Linked DNA regions of Homo sapiens. The protein of the gene in region 1 interacts with the protein of each later gene in a biochemical or structural test. Each region holds a gene or a part of one and is shown on either strand. Other genes may lie near its edges.

The links.
Region 2: the proteins of ITGB2 (region 1) and RABGAP1 form a complex in vitro, tested with the Homo sapiens proteins (one study listed by IntAct).
Region 3: the proteins of ITGB2 (region 1) and TLN2 interact in far-western blotting, tested with the Homo sapiens proteins (one study listed by IntAct).
Region 4: the proteins of ITGB2 (region 1) and GULP1 form a complex in vitro, tested with the Homo sapiens proteins (one study listed by IntAct).

What each region holds. Positions count from the first base shown.
Region 1 is NC_000021.9:44,895,875-44,900,399, reverse strand, and holds part of ITGB2 (integrin beta-2 isoform 1 precursor), read left to right. Parts: coding exon 1-80; intron 81-1,237; coding exon 1,238-1,333; intron 1,334-4,525.
Region 2 is NC_000009.12:123,069,599-123,074,123, forward strand, and holds part of RABGAP1 (rab GTPase-activating protein 1), read left to right. Parts: intron 1-751; coding exon 752-826; intron 827-1,813; coding exon of another isoform or gene 1,814-1,879; exon of another isoform or gene 1,880-1,903; intron 1,904-3,953; coding exon 3,954-4,079; intron 4,080-4,525. UniProt on the Homo sapiens protein: May act as a GTPase-activating protein of RAB6A. May play a role in microtubule nucleation by centrosome. May participate in a RAB6A-mediated pathway involved in the metaphase-anaphase transition.
Region 3 is NC_000015.10:62,841,550-62,845,131, reverse strand, and holds the end of TLN2 (talin-2), read right to left. Parts: 3' UTR 501-3,582; downstream 1-500. UniProt on the Homo sapiens protein: As a major component of focal adhesion plaques that links integrin to the actin cytoskeleton, may play an important role in cell adhesion. Recruits PIP5K1C to focal adhesion plaques and strongly activates its kinase activity.
Region 4 is NC_000002.12:188,584,763-188,589,287, forward strand, and holds part of GULP1 (PTB domain-containing engulfment adapter protein 1), read left to right. Parts: intron 1-3,092; coding exon 3,093-3,187; coding exon of another isoform or gene 3,188-3,313; exon of another isoform or gene 3,314-3,847; intron 3,848-3,888; coding exon of another isoform or gene 3,889-3,951; exon of another isoform or gene 3,952-4,525. UniProt on the Homo sapiens protein: May function as an adapter protein. Required for efficient phagocytosis of apoptotic cells. Modulates cellular glycosphingolipid and cholesterol transport. May play a role in the internalization and endosomal trafficking of various LRP1 ligands, such as PSAP.

The DNA.
Region 1 (4,525 bases):
GGAAGCTGGGCGCCATCCTGACCCCCAACGACGGCCGCTGTCACCTGGAGGACAACTTGTACAAGAGGAGCAACGAATTCGTAAGTCCCCACCCCAGGCACCCAGGCACCGCCTGGCAGGACACCACTGACGGAGGAGACAAGGGTGGGGTCTCCACCTGACAGAGCCTCCTTCTGACCCAAGGAGCAGATTCCTGAGGAAACTTCTGGAAGCCCCAAGTGGCAGCGTGGGGTCTCCCCGGACTGGCCTCAGGCCAGGGGAGGGTAGGGTTGGTGGGGGCAGCCAGGCTGAGGCCCGGCCTCGCCCTTGTGGGACACCCAGGCTCTGTTGGTCTCCAGCCCCACTGCCCCCCTACCTGGGCTGACAGCTGCTGTGGAGGTATAGTAACCGCCCCCAGGCTACGGCTGCACCCTGCCGTCCCCGCCTCTGGCCAGGGTCCCATCCCCAAGCATCCGCCTCCTCCCCCTCCCGGCCTCCACTGTACGTTCCCTGCTGCCCCTGAGTCCGCCTCCTCCAGTGTGGCCCCTCCCTGCCCCCATTGCCTGAGCTGGGTGAGCGGCTGCGGGGACCATGAGGAACATGCAGGGAGGGACAGAGGCGAGAAGGAGCCCAGGATGCACGGGTTAGGATGAGCCTCTCTGCGGAGGCATCTCAATGGCTCAGAGGGGCCAGGACTTCTGGCTGGGATCAGCCGTGGGCCGAGAGGCAACCACTGGTCACAAGGGGCTTGTCCTCGCTGGCCGTAGTGCGACGCTCTTGCAGCCTGACGTTGTAGGCTCTGGGGGCCGCAAAGGACTTTAGAGATACAAGACTCAGGTCCTCCGCCGGGAGCCACAGACGGGAGGGACGGCCCTCGGGTCCCGGAACTCGGGTAGGGAGAGCCGCACCTGACACTCATGGCCTCTACCGAAACTGAGTGTCCCTCAGTGCGAAAGCAGGTCCACCGTGTGGGGAAGGCTGGGATTCTGCCCCCGTGGACATCCCCAGTCCCACGGTGAGACGCCTCAAATGCTGCTCATGCCTGGACTCTGAAAGCCCGAGTCTATGCACACATTGCCCAGAGGGCGTGGCAGCTCTCTGCCCTGCACTCCTGCGTGGCAGCCTCTGCCTCTCCAGCCTTCCCCAGAGAGGGTTCGAAGCACGGGCAGGGCTGACGCTGAGCGGGGCAGACAGGGGCGGGTACCTGGAAGCCTTGTCCTGGACTCGGGGCCAACTGAGCAGGACCTCCTCTCTCCAGGACTACCCATCGGTGGGCCAGCTGGCGCACAAGCTGGCTGAAAACAACATCCAGCCCATCTTCGCGGTGACCAGTAGGATGGTGAAGACCTACGAGGTGAGTGCTGTTGGGTCCCGAGCATCCATTGGGTGGGGGCATGTTTCAGCCACAGGCCAGACCCAGCGCCACTGCAGGTCTGAGCGCCACCTCTGCATGCTGGGCACGTGAGCAACCAGCCGGCCCAGGTCCTGGATCCCCCTAGGTGAGGAGCCCGAGGCTTCCCGTCGGGGACAGGACGCCTGCGTGTCGATAGGAGGAGGAATTCCTCCCCGTCCCTGAAACTCAGCTGTGTTAACAGCATGTCTTGGCATTGGTGATATTTCTGTTTTTTCCTGGAATACAACACAATTCTTTATTTTATGGAAACACACTTATTTTATGCTCACATACATTTGAACATCAACACTCTCCGTGAAGATAAAATTACACAAAAACGTTCACAAGCTTGGAGTGCGGAGTGGGATGAATTTCACGAAGGAAGCACAGCTGATAACCAGCCTCTGCTCCTAGAAAAAGAGGCCCCCAGTGAAACACGTTCATCCTGCATTTCCGCTGCTAGTGCCATGTGTTCAGCCTGAGCAGGTCAGTGCGTCAAGACGCTCAGGTGCTGTTGGGGTTCCCAAGACCTTTCTCAGGATCAGTGATTTGCCGGAAGGACTTGCAGAGCTCAGGAACCAGTAAACTCACAGTTACAGTTTATTGCAGAGCCGACCCTCCTGGGTGCCAGCCGCTGCCCGAGGTGGGAGGATACAGACAAAAGTCAGCAAAGGTCAAAGGTGCACAGGAGAGAAACCAGGCACCAGCTCCCAGTGTCCCCTCCCTGCAGGGGTGTGGGCGGCGCTCCATCCTCCCAGCGATGATGTGTGGCCTCATGCACAGAACATGGTCCCCAAGGAGGCTCTTGAGCCTCGGTGTCTACTGGGGGTCAGTCACAGCGGCGCGGCTGACACCCCATGGCTGACCTCAGTCTCTAGCCCTCCAGAGGTCAAGCTGAAAACTGTCCAGGGCCCCACCCCAAATCACACTGTGGGACTATCCGGTGTGACCTGAGGCCCCAGGAACAATGACACCCCCATCGGGTAGGATGTACCAAGGGCTCAGAGGCTACCTCTCAGGAGCTCAGCCGGGGTCTACCACTCTTTGGCATGTGTGGGGTGTGGCCAGCCAGGCCTGCTGGGTGGAGCCCTGACTGTGTAACAGGGATTCGCTAGAAGGAAGGAAACACTGCACGCCCTCCTGAAAGGAGCCTCCGCCCATAGCAGCCTGCACAGTGTGTGGCCCTGAGGCCACAGGGACAGAAGGACTGAGCTGGAGGAAGGAGGTGGTTGTCATTGTACTTTACACAGCCACGTGCCCCGTTCTTCAGGGTGGAGCTGGAGGAACGAGATAGTTGTCATTGTACTTTACACAGCCACGTGCCCCGTTCTTCAGGGTGGACAGGGCCCTGGGTGGCTCACCTCACACCCAGCTCTGTTACTTACCACAGGACGCCCCAGGCCCTTCCTTACCCCGAGCCCTCAGTTTCCTCATCTGTGAAAGGGGTAGTGGTGCCCGGCGGGCAGTGCGTCGTGGGTACTGAGCTCACCCACTCAGGGAATTCACAGAGCAGCCGCCCTAAAGGGCCCGATTATCCTCATCCGGACAGTGACCGACCTGCTGGCCATTCCAGGGCCATCACCGCCATCTTCTTCAAAATGGCACGCAGGAAACCAGGGCCCCCTCTTCCCCCTGCCTGGGGCTCTGCCCAGCTGGGCAGCCTCACAGCCCCTGCCCTGCTGCTTAGGCTGAGGAGACATACTCGGGGTTTGGGGAAGGAAAGTGCCCGGGAGGGCCGCTGCTTTTGTAAAGTGAACATTTGCTGAACTACAGGGATCCATTGTCAGGCCCGTATCCCAGCTACAAGCTCAACCTCGTGGTGTGTTGGGGCCGACAGCGAGACCAGCGGTTCCTGCCATAGGTTCCCCGGGCTCTGGAGTGGGAGCAGGACCCTGCGGGAGACACGGGATGGGGGCAGGTGTCTGGGGGACCCTCCGAGTGGGCACCCAGAGCTGGTCAGGCTGCCGGGACAGTGGGTCAGCGCAGGGCAGGGCTGGGGCCGGACATCCACAGAGACCACCTGCTGGTCAGGATGTCACAGCCCTGTGTCCCATCTGTAGGTGGCCATGACGGTCCCCTCCTCACCAGCAGTAGCAGGTCCCAATCCTTTGCCATTTGTCATGGCAGCCAGACTCCAGGCGATGGTGTGGCACCAGGGCCAGGCACTGGAGGCAGGTAGAGTGCACCCCATGCCTACTGCTGAGCCTTGGGGCACACAAGCCTTCCTCAGCCTTTCCTGGTCACCTTCGGGGGTGGTCAAGGCAACAGGCAGCGAGTGTGGACACACGTGCCACGCCCCCTCCGAGTGTGTTTCTGCACCAAGCGCACAGCAGGCTCAGCAGGACAGGATGTGGGAGGGCCCAGCTCTCCCAAGACAGGGATGGCCCCAGACTGGGACGGATGGAAGTGGGCGGTGGGCGGAGGGCGCAGAGGAGGGTGGTGGCCAGGCTGTGACCGGCCCCAGGAGCTCCATGGAAGGGACTGGGCCCATGCAGGGCAGTCATGGGAGGGTTTGGGCGGGGAGGTGACCCGACCATCTGCTCCGTGTTCCTGGAAGGTGAAATGATGCCGCAATCTTCCATGAAAGAAGCTGAGCATGTGTGAGCATGGGGGAGGCTGGCTGCGCCCCTGTGCATCTGGCCGGCCAGAACCGATGTCACCGGGCTGTTTAACACCCATGGAAACTCAGTAGAGTGCCAAGAGCCGATGGCTTCCTGGTGATTTTACTGTGATCCACCCTCGTGGGGCTACTTCCGCCTACCATCTGTGTGGTGGTAGGAATTCCCTACCTGTGTGGTGGAAATTCTGGCCAACACTGGCCACCATGCACGTCCTCCCAACCCAGTGATATTGCGAGCTTGAAATCCACCAGGCAGGATCACTCACACCACAGGCAGGAGTACTCACACCACAGGCGGGAGCAGTCACACCGCAGGCAGGATCACTCACACTGCAGGCGGGATCACTCACACCGCAGGCGGGAGCACTCACACCGCAGGCGGGATCACTCACACCGCAGGCAGGAGGACTCACACGGGCAGGCCTGGACAATGCTGCAGCTCAGGGCTTTGCTTTCTTTTCTTATCCTCATGATGCAACAGTAATTTTTTTTTTATTTTTTATTTATTTTATTTTATTTTATTTATTTTTTTA
Region 2 (4,525 bases), on another chromosome or scaffold:
GGCCAGGCACACTGGCTCACACCTGTAATCCCAGTACTTTGGGAGTCCAAGGTAGGAGGATAGTCTGAGCCTAGGGGTTAGAGACCAGCCTGGGCAACGTAGTTGAGATCCCATCTCTATAAAAAATTTTTAAAAATTAGGCAGGCATGGTGGTGCAAGCCTGTGGTCCAGGCTACTCAGGAGGCTGATGGAGCAGGATCCCTTGAGCCCAGGAGGTTGACGCTGCAGTGAGCCATGATTGTACCACTGCACTCCAGCCTGAGCAACAGAGCAAGACCCTGTCTCTAAAAATAAAATAAAATGCAATGTGGTAATAATATAATAATAACCATGCATGTATAGCAGGTGCCATAGAGGCAGAGAAGAGAGGAATTCATTCTGGGGGAATTGAAATAAGTTTGGTGCCTGAAGGAAGAGTGCATGTTTGAGGCAGAGAGGGAAAGGACATCCCAAGGAGAGGGAACATCATGAACAACAACAAGGAAATACGAAGTTTTTTTTAGCGCAGAAGTGGTTTTTCCTTAATCTTCCCTACTCCTTCGCCACAGGAAATGCAGTGGTGATAGCTGTATTCATTGTAAAGAAAAAGTTAAGATTGGAGAGAAGTATTGGCACCACTTACTGTCTGTCAAAATGCTGTCCCAGTGTGGGTAGCATCCTCCAGGGTTCTGTATTCAAGGTCCTATAGTGCCACCATGGCCCACAAGTGGCTACATTCATTTACATTTCCTCTGTGTGTTTTATTTTCCAGGCTTATTCTGTGTATGATGAAGAGATTGGTTATTGCCAGGGCCAGTCATTTCTTGCTGCTGTGCTCCTTCTCCATGTGAGTAATTAGGTCTCTGTTATGACTTAACACATGGCCTCCCTCAGCTTATACTAACCTTAGGCTTGAGCATGGTTTTATATTGGGTTTGGACAGACTCTTAAGGCATGAATTTTAACACCTATAGCTGGAAACTTTTTCCTTAAATTAACTTAATGTCATTGTGGAGGAGATATATGATGAGAATAAACGGCAATGTTGAAAACTGGTACAGGGGTAGACTTCCTTTTTATTAATAGGATGATTGGAGAGACTTTAATGTTGGTTGAACTCTTGGGGACGTTTTATCTTCTCTAAAGTAGCCGCTGTCATTAATACTTGTTTTGAGATTTAGGTATTGGGGTAGGAGGAAGGCGGAAAAGTTGGTTTTCTTTTAGTACCATTTTATTCATTCATTGGCTTAGCAAACACCTTTGCCCTCCACCTTTTTTATTTTCTTTCAAATCCACAGAAAACTCTAAACAGTGTTAAGGTGAACAGTCTTTATCTAGTTTACCAATTAATATTTTCCACACTGCTTTTTCTGTTTGTCTCCCTCTGCATCTCTTTTTTTCTCTTTTCTGCATAAACACACATTTTCTTTTTTACTTAAATTGTTTTTTGAAATTATTCTTGAAAGTAAATAACAAACATCAAGACTTCTAAATACTTGATCATATATATGCCTTCTGGGAGCACAGAATTCTGTATCATAATCATAATACCATGATCACATCCAAGAAATTCCACATTGATTCAGTAATGTCTGATACACAATACACATTCAATTTTCTCCCAATTGTCTACTCCATAGAATCTAGCTTTTTTTCTAATCAAGATCTAATGAAGATTCAAATATTGAATTGTCATTTCTCTTTATTCTTTTAATCTAAATTACTCCTTTGCCTTTTTTTGTGTTTCATGCCATTGATAGTTTTGAAAAATTCAGACAAATTGTCATATAAAATGTCCCACAGTCTTGATTTGTCTCATTTTCTCATGATTCAGTTTAAAATGCTTGGCAAGAATACCACACAGGTGATGTCAGCAAAGAGTTTTGAGTACCTGTTATGATCTGTACTGTGCTGAAGATCAGAGGTAAATAAGAGACATGGTCTCAATCCTCCTGGATACAGAGCTTGTGAATCCAACTAGCTTTAAGCACATAATCACACAAGTATATCATTTATTACTTTCAGTGGTGCTATTAAGGTATAATAAAAAGTTTGGTGTAAGATTGTAACAAGGGAGTCTTACTTAGATTAAAGGCTTCTCAGGGGAAGTGACCTGTAAGGAGCAGCCTGGAAAATGATAAGGGATATCATTTTCTTTTGCTCTTTTCTGTGTTAACTTTTCAAAATGTTGTTATGAAAATAATAGATCTATTTGAAAAGGGAGTAGAGAATAGAGTGTTAATGGGAAAGTGAATGGTACAGTATACAGAAGTCCTAAACTGGGGAAACACTTGGTGTATGGGAGGAACTGAAAGGAGGACAGTGTGACTGGAGTATCCTGAGTGACTGGGAGTTGAGGAGAGAGCTAGGGAGAGCTTTGAAGCCCAGATAAGGAGTCTGAATCTTGCTTTTCTAAGCAACAGGTATTCAAGGGTATTAAGCCATTTTGTGTAGATTGCAATACAAGTTTGAGTATCCCTTATTTGAAATGCTTGGGACCGGAAGTGTTGTGGATTTTGGATTTTGGATTTTGGAATATTTGCATTATACCGGTTGAGCATCCCAAATCCAAAAATCCAAAGTGTTCCAATGAGCATTTCCTTTTAGCATCATGTCAGTGTTTAAAAAGTTTCAGATTTTGGAGCATTTTGTATTTTCAGATATGGGTTGCTCAACCTGTACAAGTAAAACAAAAACCACTTTGGTTTTTCTTAACTGAACCCAGCTTGTTGCTATTGGTAGTCATGTAAAAATATGATAAAGCTATGACATGAATAAAGAGGTTGACTTTTTATTTTGTTTTGTTGTTTTAATGAGACTTTATATCTCAAAGTCCCACAAGCCTGGGTGATTTATCTTCGTTCTCACCTTCAGTTCAAGGACATTTATCCCCTTGAAAATGGGTTTTCCAATCAGACCCTCCATGTCTTGTTTTGAACTCTTGCTGCTTGCCAGAGTGTTATAAGTGCTTGTTTAGAGTGAGGGGAGATGGGCTACTTAGCATCAGAATCACCACTGTGGGTTAGGCCACATCTCCTTGCATGTGGCAAAGTGAAGTTGCCTTCCATGACAAAGACTTCAAAGATCTGGGCTTTTGCCCCAGATACTCTTAACTTACCAGTAATGATCTGCTATGCTTTTCTCACTTATTACTTAATCTGATTTGCTCTTTAGTTCTGCTTTCTTCTCAGTGATTTCTGTGCTCAGCCCGCCTCCATCATCTTGTTCCATAGAAGCCTGCCCACCTTCTTGACTTTTTTGAAGGCTTGCTACATTCACACCAATCCTTAAATAACATTTCCAGTGCTTCTTTTTTCTCTTTTGAAAATATCTTGCCAAGTTCTCAGGGAAATAATTATCCATAAAACTATGGAAAATGTAGGTATTATTATAAATGTAAATAGAAGTGAAGGAGGCTTTTGTAGTACTTCAAGCATTACTGCAAGCCTTAGAATATGTAAGGTTCTTCTAAAACAAGCTATATTTTTAACAGTGAGGAAGAAAAACAATTTTGCTAGAATGAAATAGCAGCTAAGGGAGGAAAAATGGTTAAACAGAGGTCCCAGGATTTGGGAAAGATGACACCTACACTGTATATCAGCCTATTTCTGCTCAGCTCAAATTCTGTCCTTTCTACAAAGTCTGTTTCTGACTGCCTTAGGCAGATACAGGCCTTCCTGTTCTTGTATTATCACTGATGTCTAATTCCTATTACAGTTATTTTAATACTGGCTGTGTGAGAGACTCCTTGAGGACAGGAACCATACTGACAAAGAGTAGTCATTGTTAACTATTCCTTGTTTGAGTGAATAAATGTTTTAAACACAACCTTAGGCCTGAGTTTCTGCATAGCACTAAATTTTCTGGTAAGGCAATAATATAAAGCTGGATTTAATATCCTGAGAAAACTTCTGTATGTTTTGTGATTCCCCACCGCCATCCTCCCTACCCAACAACTTGCCTATCTGTTACAGATGCCTGAAGAACAGGCATTCAGTGTTCTGGTCAAGATCATGTTTGACTATGGGCTCAGGGAACTTTTCAAGCAAAACTTCGAAGATTTGCATTGCAAATTTTACCAGTTGGAGCGCCTCATGCAGGTAAAAAGAGAAACCAGCTTGTGTTTGACAAAAAGAGTACAGGACTAAGGAGCACCAAATTGAGGAAATGGTGCCAGGGAGCATTGGTAATTGCCTTAGCGATCCGTGGCTAAGGATGGGTTTCATTTTTATCCTTTATCACTATGTGATTATGATGCAAAGATTAACAAAGTGTTAAACTTTCACACCTCATGGATGTGAGCTGATAAACTCCCAAAAGATCAGATGACTTTGTTAGGGGTCTTTTCCACAGCTAACTCAGTCAAGAAGTACTCCCCAAGGCTCTGAAGCTGACTGGTTAGGAATCTCATAACAAAAGTGAAACAAACTTTCCCAAATGTTTTTTACTTTGGAGAGAAAAACAGGCTTTCCAAATACTTGTCACCATTTTGGGGATTCCTCTTTCTTTAGAACAAGTTTGTGGTCTGGAAAAAAGAGTTGAGTGC
Region 3 (3,582 bases), on another chromosome or scaffold:
GCCTCACACTTTTCTAAGTCTGGCTGCCCCGCCACAAACAAGGACTTCTGGCCCCCAGCAATTCCCAGTCCAAACAGGAAGGAGGGCCTGGCAGTCTCCGGGGGTTGCAGTTGTGGCCTCAGCTGTCAGAAGTGAACCTAACCTTCCTGTGCCAGGACCTGGGTCAAGATTGGAGATGATCCCATATGCACTTCTGTATTCAGCTGTGCGGTCTTCTGACAGAGGCGGTATGTAAAGCCAAAAAGCCCCCTAGCTACTTGTCCAGGACGCCTGCTCCTGGAGTTTCTCCAAGTTAACTCTTGTCAGCAAAGCTACATGAAATTCTGTGGCACCCTGTGGCTCTGCGTCTGTCACTCACTCACACACACGTGCTCTCTCCTGACATACCTCTGGTAACTATGGAGCTAGTCCTCAAGGTGGAATTTTACTCTCATGATAAAGACAGTCTCTTCCCCCTTCTTTTCCATCTTCCTCCCATTCCCATGAGTCCTCCACACAGGTTTGTTCCTTTAAAGGTTTATTTCTGGCAAATAAAAAAAAATAACTTATGTGGTTAGATAAATTAATGTATGTGATTAGATACGACACAGGGCAGAGCTGAACGTTCCTGTTTTCTTCTGGATCTTGAAGGTTGGTGAGAGGCCGCTGAATGAGACCCAGCCTCGTGTTTTGTGGGATGAAGAGATGCAGACAAAGTGACTCAGGTACACTGATGCTCCCTGGAGGGCTGGGAGGTGGGCTCAGAGGAAGAGGCCGAATCCAAACCTTTTTTATTGAAAAGAAATAGCTCTTGTTTGTAGCATTTAAAAGAATCAACCCAAACTCTGCACACACTCATCCGTAGTGACCATAAACATGACATACCAAGCAGAGGCTCAGAAAGATGGAGCAACAGACTGAGGACATTTTCAACATGGTACTTGGGGATACCTTTGGGAAAGATGCCTTCCCCAGCAGAGGCCAGCACTGTGGAGAGATAGGACCAGAGCCACTACTGGCACAGTTGTCAAGATCTTTTGCTTTCTGAACTCTGGGGACCGCTGCCTTTTAGCCTGAGGGGAATGTCTCCAAATTTCTTGGGTTGGTAAGTCTCAGAAGCAGCCAGCCCCTTGGTCAACAGAGGGTACCTTTCCTCCAGGAATCTGAGAATGGAACATGCTGATAGTCTGTGCTGAGATCTTAAGGCCAGCATCCCAGAGGCCTTTCCAGAGCCCAGAACCTCAAAGCTGGGAGAGAAGATTCTGGGGACTATCTGCCAGGGAGGAAACCAAGGCTCCTCGGGGGTCAGCGTGTGAGTTCCCCAGGAGCAGAGACCATGGCTTGCTCACCACTTTTGACCTGTGTCTGGTTCCTTGATGAGGTTTTGGCCTTGGCATCACTTTGGAGGTGGGGTTTACTCTCTTAGGCTATGGTGAATTTTGGTTATAATTTTTTGATAAATTAGGAACAGGCTTTAGTTGCCTGTAAACACACTGACTAAGACAGCCAGAAAGCAAGCAGGTGAGAATCAGAAGAAGCTCGAAGGGTTTTCCCTGATAAAAGCATATGCCGTGAGGCTACAGGCAGCTCATTTCTTAAGGCCCGTGCATAGACTGCAGGCTGGGCAGCTGCCTCTGCAGCCGACCTGGAGGGACTGTGTTGACCGACTGCAGGGCCAACCAGGAATTGAGGAACCTGCCTGCACAGATGGCCAGGGCCACAGCTGGCTGGACACTGGCAAAACTTAAACAAGGGCTGTTCATTGAACTAAATATGACCTCAGCATCCCTATCTAAAGACTCCTGAAAGGCCCAAGTAAAATCTAAATTTTCAAATCACTGGGCAGTTCTGAAATCCAGTTCAGGTTCCCCTTTTGGCCATCGGGAACAGCAATTTCTGGCACAAAAATCAGCCCAAGGATTCAAAGCCCTCGAGGAGTAGAGGGGTGTGAGAAGAACCACATGTCAACACACCGGCTCTCTCTTCACAGAGATACACTTCTATGCTCCAGACCTGGGGCCGTTTTTACTCTGACACCACTCTCTTATTAGGTGTTCTGAAAGTTCACACTCCCAAATGAACTCATGCCTGTGTTATTTTCCTTTGAAGGACCAGAAGGCCCCCTCAGTACCATCTGAGGACACCGCAGTAGTGCCTATTAAATAACATCCAGACAAGGCATGGCCCTTCAACTATCTTATGAAATGAGAAACCACCACACCGGCCACGAAGCCGTTCACATACACATGTGCAGGGTGGATGAGGAAAGGACAGATGAGAAACTGGGACCATACCAGGTGATAACTGAGAACCAAACTCCCCAAAGCTCCCAGCACTGGACGACTCCAGAAAGGTGAGTATTTATATAGCTCCTACAAAAATAAACTTTCGATGCCTGTTCTTTAGAGTTATAAAGGAAAGGCCTTTGCATTTGGTTTGTCTCTGGAGGCTTTTCTGGTATCAAATGCAGTAAAGGTTTTAAATGACTCTGAGGCAAGGTGGAAGAACTGGCTGCCTGCCCCTGCCTTGGTCCTGGGTTTTCAGGATGGGATGGGGCACAGGCAGAAGAGGGCAGCTGCCCTGGGCACAGCATAGAAGAGCAGAGGGTGGGGTGGGCTGGGCCACAGAGGGGATCCCCAGAGTCCTGTTACAGGAGGCCATGAACACATTGTGACTCTGAGCATTGGGGTCTGACTCCTGAGTGTCTCTGGAAGCACGTGTGCCCCTCCTCTCAGTGTCCGGCCAAGGCAGGCATGAGGTGTTGGATCAGCTCCACTCAAAGAGGGCGAGCCAAGAGTGTGCCAGCTTTTCCCCAACAGGCTAGGGCTCCAGCAGCTCCCCTCCTCTTCAGAACTGGTGCCCACACACTGTCAGTGTCCTACACATACTCTCACTTGCTTTTCCTTTACAGCGTCTTTTCTCTAACTTTACTGGTCTGAAAAAAAAAAATTCTAATACGTGCAGCACTTATAAGTAACTTATAAATATGGGAAGCTGTCAGAAGTTTATGTATTTTAAAACCATGACATGGGCTAGAGTCTGGTGAAACAAGATCGGGCAAGGTCGAAAGGTGACATCTTCGGAGGACCAAAGCACCAACTTTCCCCCGTCAGTGGAACTTTGAAACTATAGTGTGGATGGAGTCCAAGACATGATAGCACACCAGAGAGAGAGAGAGAGAGAGAGGCGGAGGGTGAGTGCCTTTAACTGTTACCAGTTTTGAAAATCATGTACTTCCATTAACTTTTACCTTCCCCACTATGAATTCTTTCAAACACTCCTGCTCCCTGGCATTAGATTCTGTCCCACGAGCCATTCATCTTCCATGCACTGCCTTGGCTAAAGGTGCAGATTAAGGGTAAATTCAAGCCCTTCCCTTCCTATGGGAGGGCTCTGAAAAGGGGAAAGAAAAGAGGGGAAAAATATGAAATTCTGGAAGTGTGACATCCAGAAAATGAAAACATCTTATGTCTTATGTGATAATAAGTAAAACTATCTTGTTAAAGGTTCACATTGATTTTAGGATGCATTTAGATTTTCTGGATATTAAGACAGAAAAAAAGGCGTTTTGGGTTGGAGGACAGGGGACAGGTTTGTAAGCAG
Region 4 (4,525 bases), on another chromosome or scaffold:
AGCTGGTTAAAATATTTTTGTTATCATAGGGTTTATGGACTTTTTTGTTAAAAAATATATAAATTATATCATGATTTCTTAACCTTTTGTAAGGGTTCTTTCCTATCTAAAATGCTATAAATTCATTGCTTTTCTGTTTTATCTTTTATATATCTGGAAGGAATATTAAAGTCTCTTTTTGATGAATTAGAAAACACCTATAAGCCTGTAAAATAAAAAGCAAGTTAGTTACTTGTAAAATACAATGAGCATACAGGCATTGGGTGAACGTTTCCATTCCAAATTGGAGAAATTGGCAAAGCGAAGGAGCCACAGGCCCCTTGCAAGTTTGAAACCCGGTGGGGCAGTCATTAAATCTTAAAGCTCCAAAATTATCTCATTTTACTCCATGTGTCACATCCAGGGCATGCTAATGCAAGGGATGGACCCCAAGGCCTTGGGCAGCTCCACCTCTGTGGCTCTGCAGGGTACAGCCCCCATAGCTGTTTTCACAGGCTGGCATTGAGTGACAGGCACACAGTGCAAGCTGTTGGTGGATCTACCATTCGGGGGTCTGAAAGACAGTGGCCCTCTTCTCACAGCTCCACTAGGCAGTGCCCCAGTGGGGACTCTGTGTGGGGGCTTTAACCCTACATTTCTCCTCTGCATTGCCCTAGTAGAGGTTCTCCATGAGGGCTCTGCTCCTGCCACAGACTTCTGCCTGAACATTCAGGCGTTTCCATACATCCTCCGAAATCTAGGCAGAGGCTCCCAAAGCTCAACTCTTGTCTTCTGTGCACCTGCAGGCCCAACACCACAGGGAAGCCACCAAGGCTTAGGGCTTTTACCCCATGAAGCAATGGCTTGAGCTGTATCTTGGCCCCTTTTAGCCATGGCTAGAGCTGGAGTGGCTGGGATGCAGGACATCAAGTCCTGAGGTTGCACAGAGCAGCAGGGCCCTGGGCTTGGCCCACGAAACCATTTTTTCCTCTTAGGCCTCTGGACCTTTGATGGGAGGGGCTGCCGCAGATGTCTGACATGTGCTGGTGACATCTTCCCCATTGTCTTGGCTATTAACATTCAGCTCCTTTTTACTTATGCAAATTTCTGCAAGAGGCTTGAATTTCTCCTCAGAAAATGGGTTTTCTTTTTCTACCACATAGTCGGGCTGCATATTTTCCAAACTTTTTGCTCTGCTTCCTTTTTAAACGTAAGTTCTAATTTCAAATTATTTCTTTGTGAATGCATATGACTGTATGCTTTTAGAAAAAGCCAGGTCACATCTTGAATGCTTTGCTGCTTAGAAATTTCTTCTGCCAGATACCCTAAATCATCTCTCTCAAGTTCAAAGTTCCACAGATCTCTAGGGCAGGGGTAAAACACTGCTAGTCTCTTTGCTGAAGTGTAACAAGAGTGCTCCAGTAACACCTTGATAGATTTTTCAGTGTCTAAATATTCCTGAGTATCAAAGTTTGATAAATATAGACAGAGAAATAGAGATTATATAGACATAATCTATATAAGTGAGTCACTCCAAGTCACTTCTTGTCATTTCGTTTACTAAATTTTTACTTCCTTTTACAACGGGACATGTTTGAAGCAGAACCTTTTCACCAAATCTTCCCTTTCATTAATTCATTTTTTAACAAACACCTACTAGGTGAAAAACATTATTCAGTATGCTTATGGTGTAGTGGAAACCAGGACATTTCTCCAGAGAAAAGATCCTCTGAAATCTAAATTTTGATTGATTGCCTGAGCAACACTAAACTGAGGAAAATAAATAACAGCAATAGTAATATTCATCAGTTATATATAAGGTAACAATAAATTCCCATTTGATTAGGATAGCCCTGGCTTATAGATTTTTACCCAGTGTAACTATTGGAAATGCTCCTTTTAGTTTTAAAAGCATCTGTATTTGGATGATAAATTATATGTTCTCCTTATTTATACAATACCTGCAAGTACAAGGAGCTTGTAAGAATTTCACATTTATTAACTTATTTAATACAAGAATCTGGGAAAAAACATGAAAACTGGAAAAGTAAGACTCCTTCACAATGAGAATCACAGAGTGATTTTAGAGGATATGGCAGAAATCAAGTAGCATAAATATTATTTCTTTTTTAATTTTTTAATTTTTTAATTTTTTTATTATACTTTAAGTTTTAGGGTACATGTGCACATTGTGCAGGTTAGTTACCTATGTATTTCTTACATAGAATTGAATTTAGAGAATGTAAAGTTCTCTGCAAAATGAAGGTATGAATATGTTATAAATACTAATTTTCATATATAGTGTAATGTTTTTCCAATTAAGGATACATTTGAATTGATTCAGAGGAAAGAAATTTCTTAAGAATTTTTTATTTTAAAAATCCCATAATAGGCCGTAATCTATCAATTACAAACATCAATTTTAACTTTGATACTTCTTTAGTGATAAAAAAGTAGTGCATACTTTAGAACATATGTACAGAAAGCTTTTTTGACATTGCATTCCTGCTGCTTTTAAAAAAGAAATGTATTTCTGGGATAGGAGGCATTTTTAAAGAAACTATCTCATTGTGACTATCTAGAAAGGTGACATTTCATACTACATGAGACAATGTGCTTTAAAATTTTCTCTGAATAAAAGGAGAGATAAGAGTACATGAACTTTGAGTAGAGCTACTTACAAGTCTACTTAGTCCTACATATTGCTTTACTATTGTGTTGCAAGGCATCAATCAATGGAATTAGGGTAGTCTCAATGAGTAGTGCATTAATTTTAGCAAATTTAAATTGCTTCAATAAAATATAGGTGTTGTAACATACAATTATCAGCTCTTTGGTGAATTTGACATTAAGAAATCTTCACTAAAACACAGAAACCTCTCTAGATAATAATTCTTTATAATAAAACTTTTTAATATCATAAAATGGATCTTTTCTTCCTTGTTAATGTTTAACTGGTCTAAGGTCAGGAAAGCCCAACATACAGTGTAAGTGTGGGTTAGTGGCTTATTTGATCATGTAAATATTCATTTATATAATCCTGCCTTTGAAATCTAACTAACTCCAGCTCACTTCTTGTTATTTCATTTACTAAATTATTTCCTTCCTTGCAGAACGGGACCTGTTTGGAGCAGAACCTTTTGACCCATTTAACTGTGGAGCAGCAGATTTCCCTCCAGATATTCAATCAAAATTAGATGAGATGCAGGTGACTATTTTGATAGACTGGCCCATAAATGATTTATTTCATTTTGATATGGGACAAAGAGAATGTTATGTACCAAAACTATGGTTTCCTTCAATTATTTTCGCTATAAAAACTCGCTTAAAATAATTACTTTAAAATAATAATGTACAGTTAGTCCTAAAAATACTCCTACATATGCTAAGGATAAGGTTGTTGGTTTTTTAAATGGTTCAATTTATAATGTCAATAAGATGGTTCATTTTTTAAATACAAAATGGCATGGATTCTAATGGTTCATTGTTCTGAAATCTAGAGTTAAACAGTCACTGCATTAGATTTATAAGATTTGATCTCAGTCTTAACAATTATGAATTTGAAAATTGTAAATGGGTAGATGAAGGAAAATCTTTGTAAGAGTGAAATTATTCTCTCTGAAAAGAAGCATTGTAGCTGTAGTTCATAACTTTTGGGCTTTTATTTAAAAAGCAAACAACCAGTGACAACTTATTTAGGAATGTAGTTCAGTTGGGTTTTCATTTCTCTCTCTTCCTTTTACTTTTTTGTTCTAAATTGGTCTGAAGTTTACAGAAATTGGTTTTAAATGCTTTGCACTATGGGCCATGATTTAAAAATAGTCTTATAAACCCTAGAATAAAGTCTTCTCTTTATATTTGCCCTTTACATTTTGGTGAAGTTATTATATCCTATTTTTCATCAAAAAGTTTATATATGGTAGAATCCAGACAGACACCAATTATATGAAGCTGATTGAGAAGAGACAATGAAGACACTAAAGTAAGGAGAAGGAGGTATTTTTGTTTATTAGTCTTGGGTTAATACATTAATTCTCTATGCCTCACTTCCTAGAAAAAACAATTATGGGTGAACACTGATCTATCACTGATAATTGCAATCCTTCTTAGAAAGTTAATTTAAATGCCCTTTTACTCATTTTTGACTGCAGCTGTGTAGCTATCTTATTTTCTAGGTAGTACATGAATTCATTATTGTTCTAGATGTAATAACATGCCTGAATTTAAAAGTTGAATTACTTAACATATGTCTTGAGGTTTTCAAAGAATCTATTAAAACAGTGTTTCTCAAGTTGAATGATTCTTAATCCCCTTTTACATAAAAATTGTTTTAGATCCTTAGTATTAACTTACAATTTTTAAATATTGACAAAAATGTTATAAACAACTTGTCCTTATGGTTTTTATAAAATTATGAATTCAATAAATTATAAATTAAATGAAAGCCAAATTGCAACACCAATACAGGACGGATGATCTTATTTGGTTAAAGCTAAAACCACCTTATCAAATTTCTATTGATTTCAACATGTATTCTATCTGATGG